3 linked regions of the Homo sapiens genome follow. The protein of the gene in region 3 interacts with the protein of the main gene of each other region in a pairwise test. Each region holds a gene or a part of one and is shown on either strand. Other genes may lie near its edges.

The links.
Region 1: the proteins of SLC30A8 (region 3) and CMTM7 interact in binary tests that used the Homo sapiens proteins (3 or more experiments, as listed by UniProt).
Region 2: the proteins of SLC30A8 (region 3) and SYT2 interact in binary tests that used the Homo sapiens proteins (3 or more experiments, as listed by UniProt).

What each region holds. Positions count from the first base shown.
Region 1 is NC_000003.12:32,439,675-32,444,601, forward strand, and holds part of CMTM7 (CKLF-like MARVEL transmembrane domain-containing protein 7), read left to right. Parts: intron 1-2,165; coding exon 2,166-2,339; intron 2,340-4,927.
Region 2 is NC_000001.11:202,605,206-202,610,132, reverse strand, and holds part of SYT2 (synaptotagmin-2), read left to right. Parts: intron 1-1,192; exon of another isoform or gene 1,193-4,189; coding exon of another isoform or gene 4,190-4,360; coding exon 4,361-4,538; intron 4,539-4,927. UniProt on the Homo sapiens protein: Exhibits calcium-dependent phospholipid and inositol polyphosphate binding properties. May have a regulatory role in the membrane interactions during trafficking of synaptic vesicles at the active zone of the synapse.
Region 3 is NC_000008.11:117,169,495-117,174,421, reverse strand, and holds part of SLC30A8 (proton-coupled zinc antiporter SLC30A8), read right to left. Parts: intron 3,389-4,927; coding exon 3,254-3,388; intron 1,887-3,253; coding exon 1,741-1,886; 3' UTR 1-1,740. UniProt on the Homo sapiens protein: Proton-coupled zinc ion antiporter mediating the entry of zinc into the lumen of pancreatic beta cell secretory granules, thereby regulating insulin secretion.

The sequences.
Region 1 (4,927 bases), on a different chromosome or scaffold from region 3:
ACTCCTGGCTTCAGGTGATCCACCCGCCTTGGCCTCCCAAAGTGCTGGGATTGCAGGCGTGAGCCTGGGATGCCAGGCATGCACCAGGCCCCATTTTGTGATTTAATTCTCATTGTAGACTGACATTTTCTATAGCAGAATTTTTCAACAGTAGTACTGTAGTTGAGGGGCCACATTTGGGGCTGGAGATGGGTAACTCTTTACTATGGGAGCTCTCCTATTTATTGCAGGGTGCTTAGCAGCACCCTGGGCCTCTACCCACTAAATGCCAGTAGCAACCCCCATCCCCGCAAATTGTGTAAACCAAAAATATATACACACATTGCCAAATGTCCCATAGGACACAAAATCATATACCCATACGCTAACACACCCATACACTAACACCACACGCATACACACACACACACACACACACACACACACACACACTTTAAGACTCGCTGCTCTGGCCAGGCGTGGTGGCTCACACCTGTAATCACAGCACTTTGGGGAGCTGGGGCAGGCAGATTACTTGAGTTCAGGAGTTTAAGACCAGTCTGGCCAACATGGTGGAACCCCCTCTCTACTAAAAATGCAAAAATTAGCTGGGCATGGTGGTGCATACCTGTAGTCCCAGCTACTCTGGAGGCTGAGGCAAGAGAATCGCTTGAATCTCGTAGGCAGAGTTGCAGTGAGCCAAGATCATGCTACTGCACTCCAGCCTGGGCAACAGAGTGAGACTCCATCTCAAAAAAAAAAGAATCACTCCTCCATAGGAGAGAGGCAGTGTATAAAATAATCTTTTTTCTAAATTGGTTGTGCATTTTAAATAGATTCCTGGCTGGAAACAATGGCTTACGTCCATAATCCCAGCACTTTGGGAGGCCAAGGCAGGGGGATTGCTTGAGCTCAGGAGTTTGAAACCAGCCTGGGCCACATGGCAAAACCCCGTCTCTACTACAAATATGAAAATTAGCCAGGCATGATGGCACACGCCTGTAATCCTAGCTACTTGAGAAGCTAAGGTGGGAGGATGACTTGAGCCCAGGAAGCAGAGGTTGCAGTGAGCTGAGATTGGTTCACTGCACTCCTGCCTGGGGAACAGAGCCAGACTCTATCTCAGAAAAACAAAAACTAAATAACTAAATAAATAAGTAGATTCTAAGATTTTACACACATTGAATCCCGTGTGTTACTGGTTTGTTCCCTACATGGAGTAGACAGGTTTTCTCTTTGGCCTTCACGGAAGCTCAGACTGTTACTCATTCTACTTTCTTGTACTCATGCATTGCTAATAGTTTTCATCTGGTTATTAATTCAGTAGCAGGCCGTTAAGCATGTTCACTCGTGCTGAGATATTTCTTAGTGAGCTCTCACCACATGCCCTGATGGTGAGCAGCCTCACCTCTTAAACAGGATTCCTGCATGGTTGAGAACCCGTCCACCTTTCTCGGCTTGTTATGATCAGAGCTTACACTTTTGGGAGGTAGAACTGCATCTGACATGGAGGAACATGGTCCTTAGAGTCAGACAGACCTGGATTCAAATCCCACTTCTGCTTACAAGCCAGATAGCCTTGGACTGATGATTGAACCTGCATGCCTCCGTTTCCCCTTATGAACATGGGGATGATTTTGTCTACCTGGCAGGGTTCTGCATGGCCTTAGCGAGATCACGTATGTCAGACATCAGTAAATGGTAACTTGTTATCTGTCAGTTGATAGCTGTAAGGTATGAATTACCATCTTTGTAGGTCAAAAACCATCAAATATTGGCAACTTCGTACAATTGGGCCTAATATGTAAACCCCAGGTCACCATCACGCTGTCCTCTTTGCTCTATGGATATCCAGCAGATGAAAGGGATGGTTCTGCTTTGTTATTTTCTTGTTTTCCTGCTTCTTCTGAGGGGGCTTCCCGCTGGCACAATCTAACAAACTTCAGAGAGGACGAAGTCAGTCTCTGCTGTCATCAGTGTTCACAGACAGTAGTTTCAAAGTGTGTACCACATGAAGTTGCAGTCTTCCAACCTTCCAGCCAGTGTGTATGGAAATAACCTGAATTGTATTAATAGCAGTTCTTCAATGTGGGCCTGCTGGGGGATGCTTGGTTGTTTTCCGTTGTTTGTTCCCTGGGTGCCCGTCTTGGGCAAGCATTTCTCTGATGTCTCTATTTATGTGGCAGGTCACCCTGCTGATTGCCTTCATCTGTGTGCGGAGCTCCCTGTGGACCAACTACAGCGCCTACAGCTACTTTGAAGTGGTCACCATTTGCGACTTGATAATGATCCTCGCCTTTTACCTGGTCCACCTCTTCCGCTTCTACCGCGTGCTCACCTGTATCAGCTGGCCCCTGTCGGTAAGAGAGTGGTCTGGCCCTGTCCTCCGCATGCACAAGTCAGGATGTTAGCTAGAGTACTGAGACCTGACAGAGTTTTTCCCGTCTGCCCATCTCACCTCTTTAACCATTCTTTGCTGCCTCTGCCCTGAATTTCCTATTGTTTGGTGGACATCTCTGCTTGATGTCCTGCTGGTTTTTAAAACTCACTTTCCAGCTACAAGAAGGCTGTGGCTGGCCGGGCGCGGTGGCTCACGCTGGTAATCCCAGCACTTTGGGAGGCTGAGGCGGGCGGATCACGAGGTCAGGAGTTCGAGACCACGGTGAAACCCCGTCTCTACTAAAAAATACAAAAAATCAGCCGGGCGTGGTGGCGGGTGCCTGTAGTCCCAGCTACTCAGAGAGGCTGAGGCAGGAGAATGGCGTGAACCCGGGAGGCGGAGCTTGCAGTGAGCCGAGATCGAGCCACTGCACTCCAGCCTGGGTGACAGAGCGAGACTCCTCTCAAAAAAAAAAAAAAAAAAAAAAAAAAAAAGAAGAAGGCTGTGGCTATTGCCCCATGCTTACTTTCTCAAGCAACAGAGAATGGCTGTGTGTGTATGAGTTGGGAAAAGGAACACGGAAGGAAATTGTAGGTGAAGATGATGGGTATTGATGCTGTTGTGAGGATTGAATGATAGGATTTTCTGGCTAAAAGAGACTAGTGGGGGCTGAGGAGACAGTCAGAAGTTGCCAGACTTTTTCTTCCCACTGTATTATTTTTTAAAGCTTCATTGAGATGCAGTTCATATGCCGTATTGTTCACCCATTTCAAGGGTACAATTCAATGGAGTTTAGTATATTTCCAGAGTTGTCCAACCATTACTACAGTCAACTTGAGAACATTTTCATCATTTCAGAAAGAAATTCCATACCTTTTAGCTGTCACCTCCCTACCACTCATCCCTCCAGTCCTAAGCAATCACTAATCTTCTGTCTCTAAAATTTTTCTACTCTGAACGTCTCATGTAAATGGAATTGTATATGTGGTCTTTTGTAACTGGCATCTTTCACTTAGCTGAATGTTTTCATGGTTCATCCATGTTGTAGCAGGTATCAGTATTTCATTCCTTTTTTTCTTTTTAGAGACAGGGTCTCACTCTGTCACCCAGGCTAGAGTGCAGTGACGTGATCGCGACTCACTGCAGCCTCAACCTCCCAGGCTCAGGTGATCTTCCCACCTCAGCCTCCCGAGTAGCTGAGACTACAGGTGCATGCCACCACACCTGGATAATTTTTGTGTTTTTTTTTTTACAGAGATGAGGTTTCATTGTGTTGCCCAGGCTGGTTTCAAACTCCTGGCCTTAAGCAATCCTCCCACTTTGGCCTCCCAAAGTGCTGGGATTACAGACATGAGCCACCATGCCAGCCTTTTTATAACCAAATTTTATTCCATTGTGTGGATAGACCAGACTGCATTTTGTTTTTCATTCATCTTCAGTGGACCTTTGGGTTGTTTTTACCTTTTGGCTATTATGAATAATGCTGCTATGAGCATTCATATACAAGTTTTTTGTGTGGACATATTTTCATTTTTCTCTGGTATGTATCTAGGAGGGGAATTACTGAGTCATATGGTCACTTTGTGTTTAATTGTTTGAGGAACCGCCAGACTGTATGCCAAAGTGGCTCACTGTTTTACATTCCCACCAGGAGTGTATGAAGGTTCCAGTTTCACAACATCTTTGCCAACACTTATTATCTGACTTTCTGATTCCAGCCATTCTAGTGAGTGTAAAGTGTTATTTCCTGTGGTTTTGATTTTCATTTCTCCAGTGACTAATGATGTTAATCATCTTTTCATGTGCTTTTGGCCATTTGTATATTTTCTTTGAAGAAATGTCTATTCGAGTCCTTTGCCTATTTTTTAATTAGGTTATTTGTCTTTTCATTATTGAGTTGTGAGAATTCCTTCTATAGTCTGGATAAAAGTCCCTTATCAGCTATATGACTTGAAAATATTTTCTCCCATTCTGATGTTTTTCACTTTTTTGATGGTGTCCTTTAAAGCACAAGTTTTTAATTTTGATAAATTTAGTTTATTTATTTTTTTTCTTTTTTAGCTCACGCTTTTCTTACATATAAGAAGCCATTTCCAAATTCAGATTGTGAAAATTTACTTCTATGTTTTCTTCCAAGAGTTTTATAGTTTTAGTTTATACATTTAGGTATTTGATCCATTTTGAGTTAATGTTTTTTGCATAGGGTGTGAGGTAAGGGTTCAATTTCATTCTATTGCATGTAGATATCCAATTATCCCAGCATCATATGTTGAAAAGACTATTCTTTCCCCCATTGAATGGCATTGGCACCCTTGTTGAAATCAGTTGACCATTAAATACATGGATTTAGTTCTGGACTCTCAATTCTATTCCATTGATCTATGTGTCTGTCGTTATGCCATTATCACACTATTTTGATTACTGTAGCCTTGTAGTAAGTTGTAAAACTAGCAAATATGCAGCCTCCCAATTATTCTTCTTTTTTAGGATTGATTTGGATCGTTACAATTCCATGTGAATTTTAGAATCGGGTTTTCAATTTCTACAAAAATCAGCTGGGATTATAAT
Region 2 (4,927 bases), on a different chromosome or scaffold from region 3:
TAAATGGTGCTGGGAAAACTGGCTAGCCATATGTAGAAAGCTGAAACTGGATCCCTTCCTTACACCTTATACAAAAATTAATTCAAGATGGATTAAAGACTTAAATGTTAGACCTAAAACCATAAAAACCCTAGAAGAAAGCCTAGGCAATACCATTCAGGACACAGGCATGGGCAAGGACTTCACGTCTAAAACACCAAAAGCAATGGCAACAAAAGCCAAAATAGACAAATGGGATCCAATTAAACTAAAGAGCTTCTGCAGAGCAAAAGACACTACCATCAGAGTGAACAGGCAACCTACAGAATGGGAGAAAATTTTTGCAATCTACTCATCTGACAAAGGGCTAATATCCAGAATCTACAATGAACTCAAACAAATTTACAAGAAAAAAACAACCCCATCAAAAAGTGGGCAAAGGATATGAACAGACACTTCTCGAAAGAAGACAGTTATGCAGCCAAAAGACACATGAAAAAATGCTCATCATCACTGGCCATCAGAGAAACGCAAATCAAAACCACAATGAGATATCATCTCACACCAGTTAGAATGGCGATCATTAAAAAGTCAGGAAACAACAGGTGCTGGAGAGGATGTGGAGAAATAGGAACACTTTTACACTGTTGGTGGGACTGTACTAGTTCAACCATTGTGGAAGTCAGTGTGGCGATTCCTCAGGGGTCTAGAACTAGAAATACCATTTGATCCAGCAATCCCATTACTGGGTATATACCCAAAGGATTATAAGTCATGGATTATAAGTCAAGGATTATAAAGACACATGCACACGTATGTTCATTGCGGCACTATTCACAATAGCAAAGACTTGGAACCAACCCAAATGTCCAACAATGATAAGACTGGATTAAGAAAATGTGGCACACATACACCATGGAATACTATGCAGCCATAAAAAATGATGAGTTCATGTCCTTTGTAGGGACATGGATGAAGCTGGAAACCATCATTCTCAGCAAACTATCGCAAGGACAAAAAACCAAACACCGCATGTTCTCACTCATAGGTGGGAATTGAACAATGAGAACACATGGACACAGGAAGGGGAACATCACACTCTGGGGCCTGTTGTGGGGTGGGGGGAGGGTGGAGGGTTAGCATTAGGAGATATACCTAATGTTAAATGACGAGTTAATGGGTGCAGCACACCAACATGGCACATGTATACACATGTAACTAACCTGCACATTGTGCACATGTACCCTAAAATTTAAAGTATAATAAAAAAATAAGTGTTGTCTGGGATGTGGAAAACTTGGAACCCTCATACATTGCTGGTGGGAACATAAATTGGTGCTGGCACCTTAAAATGTCAAACATAGTTATGACCCAGCAATTCCATACCTATGTATATACCCAAGAGAAATGAAAACATATGTCCACGCAAAAACTTATGCATGGATGTTCATAGCAGCATTATTCATAATATCCCACAAGTGGGATATTATTAGCTATATTTAGTTATAAAATAGCCCAAAGTGGAAATAACCCAAATATTTATAAATTGATGAATGGATAAATATAAAATATGTTCTAGGCAAGGTGCGGTGGCTCATGCCTGTAATGCCAACATTTTGGAGGCTGAAGTGGGAGGATTGCTTGAGGCCAGGAGCTCGAGACCAGCCTGGGCAATATAGGGAGACCCCATATCTACAAAAAATTAAAAAATTAGCTTGGTGTGATGGCATGCACCTGTAATCCCAGCTACTCGGGAAGCTGAGGTGGGATGATCACTTGAGCCCTGGAGGTGGAGGCTGTAGTAAGTGGTTGCACCACTGCACTCCAGCTGGGTGACAGAGTGAGACCCTGTCTCAAAAAAAAAAAAAAATGTTTTCTATCTACACAATGGAATACTATGTGGCAATAAAAAGGGAATGAAATACTGATACATGCTACAACATAGATGAACCTTGAAAACATCATACTAAATGAAAGAAGCCAGTCACAAAGACCACATATTTTATAATTCCATTGATAGGAAATGTTTAGGATAGACAAATCTATAGAGTCAGAAAGTAGATTAGTGGTTGCTGGAGCTGGGAAGAGGATGGGAATGGAGAGTGACTGCTAATGGGACTGGGTTTCTTTTTGAGGTGGCAAAAATGTTCTAACTTAGGTTATGCTAATTGTTCCACTATTCTGTGAATACAATAAAATGCACTGAACTGTGTACTTTAAAGGGTGACATATGTGAATTACATCTCAATAAAGCTGTTTTTTAAAAAAAAAAGGTCACAGAGCCCTGAACAGTGTGGTAGAAGTGAGGGGAGATGGACATGGCGGAAGGCCCTGGACACACATCTTTATCCCTTTGTGTGGCTACTTGCAGTTCCCGCCAAACCGGACCCATCTCTTTGTCCCCAGAGGCGAAGTCCAGTGGACCTTGGTTTTTCACTTCAAGACCAGTTTTGGGGTCAAGGCTATTTCAACATGGCAGACAGTAAGAGTTAAATAAATGCTTGGTGAATGAACCTACATTGCATCAATGTACAGGCCACCAGAAGTACTTAAGGCTGGAGCAGTCTCCAGGGCTGGGGAGGGGATCTCAGCAGGTTTTTAAAGGAAGGGACAGAACTTAAGAGCTCCTAAAATGTTCCTTCAGAAGAACCCTGAGTCTAGAGGAGAGTTAACTCATACCTAACGTGCAGTGAGAAAAGTCTCACATTTTTTCTTTAAATTCTTGTGCTGTATGCATCCTACTCTATTATTTCCAGCTTGTTTTAATTTAAAAATACTGTAAATTGCCATTCAGTAAAACGGATGCCTCAGGGAGTTGTGCTGTTTATTCTTGCATCCTGGAATACCTGTGGGTGTATGCTGCTATGTTCCCTCAGAGGAGCCCAGTCAACAAATACCCAGAGTGCCCGCTGTGTGCTTGGCACAAGGGGTGCTGTTGCCAACACAGGATCTGCCCTCATGGGACTTTCAGTTGAGAAATAAGTGCATAGCCCTGAGGAGCAGAAAGAGCTTGGTGGAGAGGACAGAATTATGGGGGGCAGAGTTTGGAAGCTCGTAAGAACATTGCCTTAAATGAAGACCAACATTTATGCTCAGTGTTTTACTAGGAAAAAGTTGAAAACTGCCTAAATGTCTACCAGTGGAATGGCTAAAAAAATTATGGTGTTACCATATAGTAGGATATTATGTAGCTATTTAATAATAAAAAACAATAAAGGAAAAGGCTTATGATGAAATTTTATGTAAAAAATCTTGAAAAAAAACTATACATAGTATGGTCTCAACATGTAAAACATACTCAGAAAAAATACCAGCATAGAATGCCCCAAATGCTAGTTGACTTTGGAGGGTAGAATTATGGGGGGATTTCTCTCTCTCTCCCCAAATTTTCTACAGTAAGTCTGGGTTATGTTATTAATAAACATCACATCTTTGATGCGGGAAGGCTAATCTACAGCTGCATGTGGGGGCAGGGCTAGAGATGAACCTGGAGTAGGGGCCACAGAGTAGACCGGGGAGGAAGGGCTAGAGATGGAGATGTGGGTGCCGTCTTCCTACAGGAGAGGTCAAAACAAACCCTGAGTGGGCACTGAGGGAGCCCGTGAAGAAACCGCAGAGAGCTGAGGAGTCTCGCGGGGCAGGAGGAGGAATTGGAGTCAGGGATGAGGAGAGTCAAGTGTCATGGAGCTGGGCAGAGATTCTAGGCAGAGTAGTATCTAGAAATCCTTGGAAGTCAAGGAGAGAGGTTGAAAGAGGAGCCCTCAGTGTAAAACCTTGTCTCCTTCCTAGAGTGGTGAGGTTAGATTTCAATGAGATATAGGAGAGTGATTAGCTATACAGGCTCTGGAGTTGGGCAGACCAGTTCAAACCTCAGTTTCAGAACTTACAGCTAAGTGACCTTGGAAAAACTATCTAACCTCTCTGAACCTGTTTCCCCATCTGTTAAATGGAACCAATAAAAACCATTAGGTTATTTTTTGGATTAGATGAATAATGCATGGAAAGTGTTTTGCACAGTGCTTGGCACATATATGTACTATTTTTTTTAAGAGACAGAACCTTACTTAATCACCCATAGCTCATGTAACCTCAAACTCCTGGACTCAAGTGATCCTCTATCACTTCAGCCCCCACTATGCCTAACTAAAAAAAAAAAATTTCTAAAGATAGGGTCTTGCTATGCTGCTCAGGCTGACTGTGTACTAATTGGATGATGTCTATTATTATTGGTTTACTACAGTTGTTAATATTATGCAAAATATCTTTGATCTATAAAGAGCTTCTCCTGGTCCTTTGGGCAGGGCTTTCTCAGGGTAAGACGACCTCTGGATGCTCACCCTGCCCTCTTCACCTCTCGTCCCCAGCTGTTTCCTCTGCCACCATGAGGAACATTTTCAAGAGGAACCAGGAGCCTATTGTGGCTCCTGCCACCACCACCGCCACGATGCCCATTGGACCCGTGGACAACTCCACTGAGAGTGGGGGTGCTGGGGAGAGCCAGGAGGACATGTTTGCCAAACTGAAGGAGAAGTTATTCAATGAGATAAACAAGATTCCCTGTGAGTGTCTCTGGTGGCTGAGAGGGTGGGGCAAGGCTAGAGTCTGGGAGAGGTGAAGAAGGGTGGGGATACCACTGGGATGTGATTGGCTGGGCTCTTTCCTAATGCTTAGATTTCAGGCTGGGTTTTTGGAGAGCCCCTGCAGGAATCGGGGAGGGGGAAGTAGGATCTGCCACTAATGTGGCAAACAAGGGGGTTTATGTGCGTCAACTTCTCAGGGGAAGAAAAGTTCTTATAACTTAAAAAACTGTCTAAAGATGAAACCAAAAGGCGATGAAAAATTATGAAACAGAAGTCACTATTCAAGTTTGCCAATAATACTTTGAAATTTATTTTGGAAGATAGAAAATAAAAGCCCTCTCTGCTTTTGAATTTCTGGCAGAGGCTGT
Region 3 (4,927 bases):
AGCTCAGCAGAATGCTAAGTAGTTATTTCAGTGGTGCTGATTGATTTGCAGAGATGGCACAGATGTGACCTCCTCAGTCAAAGTCAATGTTTTCTTGGCCCTCAAATTTCAGAAAAAAATACAAATATAAATGATAAATAATGACAAGGCCCAGATATAGCCTCAGAGTCATTGCCTCAACAATTATTAATGCCTGCTAGGTTTCTAGTACCTTGCTAGAGTCTGACAACAACATAAAAATCATCTAAGACCTATCTCCTGTTCTCTACAATACTCATAACCATAAAGTTGCAAAAAGTATGTAGTTTTAAAAATCACAGCGTGGAGAGGTTTCTTTGCATCATGTATTTTGCTTTTTCAACTAAAAGCTAACAGACAAACATAAGTGTGCCTTGTGCCTAGTCTTCTTTTTGCCTAGAATGTCCTTCTCTTCTTCGTCTTCCTGGAGAGCCTCCATATGTAATTCAAAGTCCAGCAGAGCTGTCACCTCAATGACGTGAAACATCACTGGCCATGCCCATCCGGCAATATCCATCGCTTTCCTTTTATACCCCACTACATCATTGCAATTCATGATACTATTGTAGCTGCCAATGTATGTGTCTAGCTGTCCCACTCAATGAACTCCTGTGGTTGACAATCTTCTAGACTATGGCTCATCTTTAGAAGCATCTCTGGGTAACTTTTAAAAATGCAGAAGTCCAGGTTCCAAACCAAACCCATTGACATAGGATTTCCAGAATGTTGGCCTGCACATCTTCAGTTTACTCTCCACAGATAGTGTTGAGTTGCTACCAGAACACAGAAGCACTTGCTGCGTCTGATTCCTCTTTATAGTTTCAATGCTAAGCCCAATGTCTAGCACAAAGCAGTGCTCACATCATGCTCGTGGACTGAATGAATTGGTTGCATCTGCTTTATTCCTTCTTGCAGGTAAATATCTAAATTATCTGTGGCAACAACTTGGTGGGGTCAACTCGAATGTTTTTGTCGGCTGTTCTTGAAGACTTCTGGGTCTCTACAACCACATTCTTTGGCTGGTGCCAGTGTTTAAGCACTCTGGTAGGTGAAAATATTTCCTTTTGAACAGTGATTATATAAAGTTTTGAAATAAACAAGTTAGAATTTAGAAATAAGAGGGATTTATTGCCAAAATGTGACAAGTAAATAAAAATTAGTTGTAAGCACTTCTCTGTATATTCATACATATTTCCAATTCAGAGTAGAAAAAAAAATCACATTACAGCTTGGTGAGAGAACCAAGTTCTAATGTGGCGTTAGCATACAGAGTCACTTTTATTCCTGACTTGGCTCTCCTTATTTTTTGTTTCTAATGTTTTGGTAAAATTTTGTGACTATTTGTCCCTTCCACTGATTTCTAGTAAGACTTTCCTGAGTTCAAATTTACCTATGTGTTCTCAAGATGCATTATTGGAAGGGAGATGAATTTGGTATTGCCGATAGTTACAAACAGCTGTTACTTCGGCTCCACTCAGGAATAATCTATATACACATTCCTGCAATTGAACACAGCTACTGATCAGTATATAATCCAATTGATTGATGGATCTCAGTGCCTCTTCCTTCATGGTGAATGGAACTAAATAAATAGATAAAATGTGCATTGCACCATGACATGAATTTCTTCCTTTGGTTCCTTATTTTCTATGATGCAGAAACTGCATAGCAGCATGTTTGAAGGTGGCCTGTCAAATTTGGGAAACTGACGGTGTGACTGAGCTAGTCACAGGGGTCTTCACAGAAAAGGCAGTCGGGGTCCTGGTCAACTGGAGATTCCATCTGAATGGTGAGTGAGTGCATCGTAAAGCTTTTGCTAAGGGCTTTAGCAATTTCTCTCCGAACCACTTGGCTGTCCCGGCTGGCTGCTGTTGATAAAGAAGCACAGGGAGATTAGCACTGATTGCACACGCATGGGCGACTGCTCTGACTCCAACTTCAAGTACTTTGTCTTTGACCTGCTGGGGTGGGGCAGAGGCAGGGCACTCAGAGGAAGCCACGTTTGCTCTGATAATCAGCTACATTCACACAGACAAGGCAGGGGAAACTCTAGTGCAGCAAAGTGCCCTGTCGCTATGGGAACTCTTTCTGTCCACTGTTATCTCTGGAGTCTGGCATTCCTAGGAGCTTACTATGGAAGGGGAGACAAGCCCTGGAAAAAGCCAAGACAGAACTATTATTTCTTATACAGCCCTGCTCACCAGCTCCCAGGGATCTCTGGGTTGCAGGCTTTGTATGTAATCAGAATTTATATCAAGGATAGTGACAGGAACCAGGAAGCGTTTAGAGCTCCCCACAGACCTTTCTTAGAGCAGCAACCCTCACTGCCATTTTTTTCCTGTCCCAAATGCTATCAGCAGGCTGTAAAGTCTCCTCCATAGCAACCTGAGTGTTTACTAGATTCTTCCATTTGCAGTGAAATATTGGCATAGTGAATGCTGTAAATTCCCTCAAGTCAGACCTAAGCCCCTTCGAGAAGATGACGATGTCTGAGAAAGCACAGTTTTCAAATGACTGTCACTAGTGTTCCTGTCCCCTGCCCCTAAGTAACTCCTTGAGTCATTTTTTAGCAGCCTAATGTGTTATCCTTGGCCTGAGCTTTCTCTTGAGGCAGTAAATGCCCTCCCACTGCCTATCCTCCCAGCTCTAGGACATATCAGAGACAAAATTAACTTCTTGAAAAAGTAATTTTAGTATAAACCTAGTATTATAAGAATTTTCTCACATGGCTACAGAATTTCTAATCATACAGTGTGGGACCCCACCATAATTCCTATTAGCACATCCATTAGCTTGTTAGAAATTTAAGAGTGGGGCTGGTGTCTCTTTCATCTTCCTATTTTCAGTGCCAGGAAAAACATCTTATACATAGGAGATACTCAATTAAGATTAAGTTTTTAATTCATTCCTATTATTTGACTGATAGGGCACCAAGCCAAACAGATGAAGTTGAATATTCAGAGTCCAAGGCCTTGAAGTGGCGGGTGCATTTTAGTCCTTTGTTCTGTCTGTCCTCAGCCCTCTGCAGTCAGCCCCAAGAATGTCGTGGGTATCATTGTTGCTATGACAACATCAATAAGTGGGCTGGTTTCAAAGGCCCTTGGTAATAGAAAACACTTTATAATGTTTTGACAAGCAACAGACAATAAGGGCAGCTCTACAAAAAGAAGGGAAATTACTGACTTTACAGGACAAGGACTGAATTTTTTCCAGGGTGTTTACAAAACTCACTGACCTGTAGCAACATGAGCTGAGAGAATTACTTGATTCATTGTTAGAGACCAGATGTGCAGGCTGTGCACAGACAGCACCCCGTCGACTGCTAAAATAAGCTCTTTCACACCACTGTAATTCAGGCTCTTTGGCACACCTGACAAAAGGGAAGAGATGGAGGCTGTAGTTATTCAACTAGATACAGCTCATTGAATTACCTAAACAAGCTGCAAAGTCCTCACCAAAATTTCAATGTGTTCATCCCTTTGCTGGTTTCTTACTTCAAATGTTTACAAATAAGATTTACCTGACTACTTCAAGGTTTACCATCAATCAAAATTTCCCACTCAGAATACTTGCAGAATTTACTATGCAATAACCAACAATGGTAATTATCCTTAGTTTTTATGGTATACTATTAAACTAACTGTGCCTTTTCCAACTATCTTTATATACACTCTGGAAAGTAAAATGAAATAACATGAAATTTGGTATCAAATAATCATGGGTTAGCATCCTGACGACAACTATTGTGAATTTACCCAAATCCCAGAACTTCTCTGACCCTCAGCACATTTGTAGTAAAATAAGGGTGTTAAGAACAACACATAGATCACAGAGATCTTTGAGGAGCAATTCAGAAAATATCTAATCATTATGAACAGCAATGTTGTACAAAGATTAGTTACTCAACAGGTCATTTAGTGAACTGTGCTAATAGAGGATCCTAACATTGTATAATACCATCTTATTCGGTTTGTAAGTTTTCTATTATTTTAGCTACATTGGAGGATGCTGTAGAAGAGATGTCTAAGTACAGCCCTTTTTTAGCCTCTACTTCAGTTATGTACAAACAACACAAACACCTGGGGTGTTTATTAAAAATAAATGTACCACGACTCCATTCCAGACCTAAAAGGAAATTTCTATGGATGAAGCTCCAAAATCTAGAGTCTTTCAGAGTGGTTTTCAACCTTGGATGCACATTAGTATTACCAGAGGAGATTTTAGAAATCCTGATGACTAAGTTACACCCAAGACCAATTAAATCAGAATCTCTGTGGATAAGGCCCAACATCAATGCTCATTTGGTGATTCTATCAGGCAGCCAAGATTGAGAACCACTGCACCAACATTCATGAGCCACTGAGCAGCTCTGCTTTGCAGTGGTTCTCTAGTCTGACTACATGTTTTTAAAAATACCAAAGCCAGCCCCAACCCCAGACAATTAAATCAGAATCTCTGGGTGATATAGTTTGCATATTTATCCTTGCCAGTGTCTCATGTTGAATTGTAATCCCTAATGCTGGAAATGGGGCCTGGTGGGAGGTGTTTGGGTCATGGTGCCAGATCCCTCATGGCTTGGTGCTGTCTTTGCGATGATGAGTGAGTTCTTGCAAGATTTGGTCATTTAAAAGTGTGTAGCACCTCCCTTGCCCTTGCTCCATTCCCATCATGTGACGTGCCTTCTCCCCCTTTGCCTTTTGCCGCTATTGGAAGCTTCTTGAGGCCTCCCCAGAAGCAAATGCCACCATGCTTCCTGTACAGCCTGCAGAACCATGAGCCAATTAACCTTATTTTCTTTATAAATTATCCAGTCTCAGGTATTTCTTTATAGCAATGTGAGAACAGCCTAATAACACTGGGTATGGGAGGCCTGAGCATAAGCATTGTTTAAAAGCTTCCCAGAGGATTA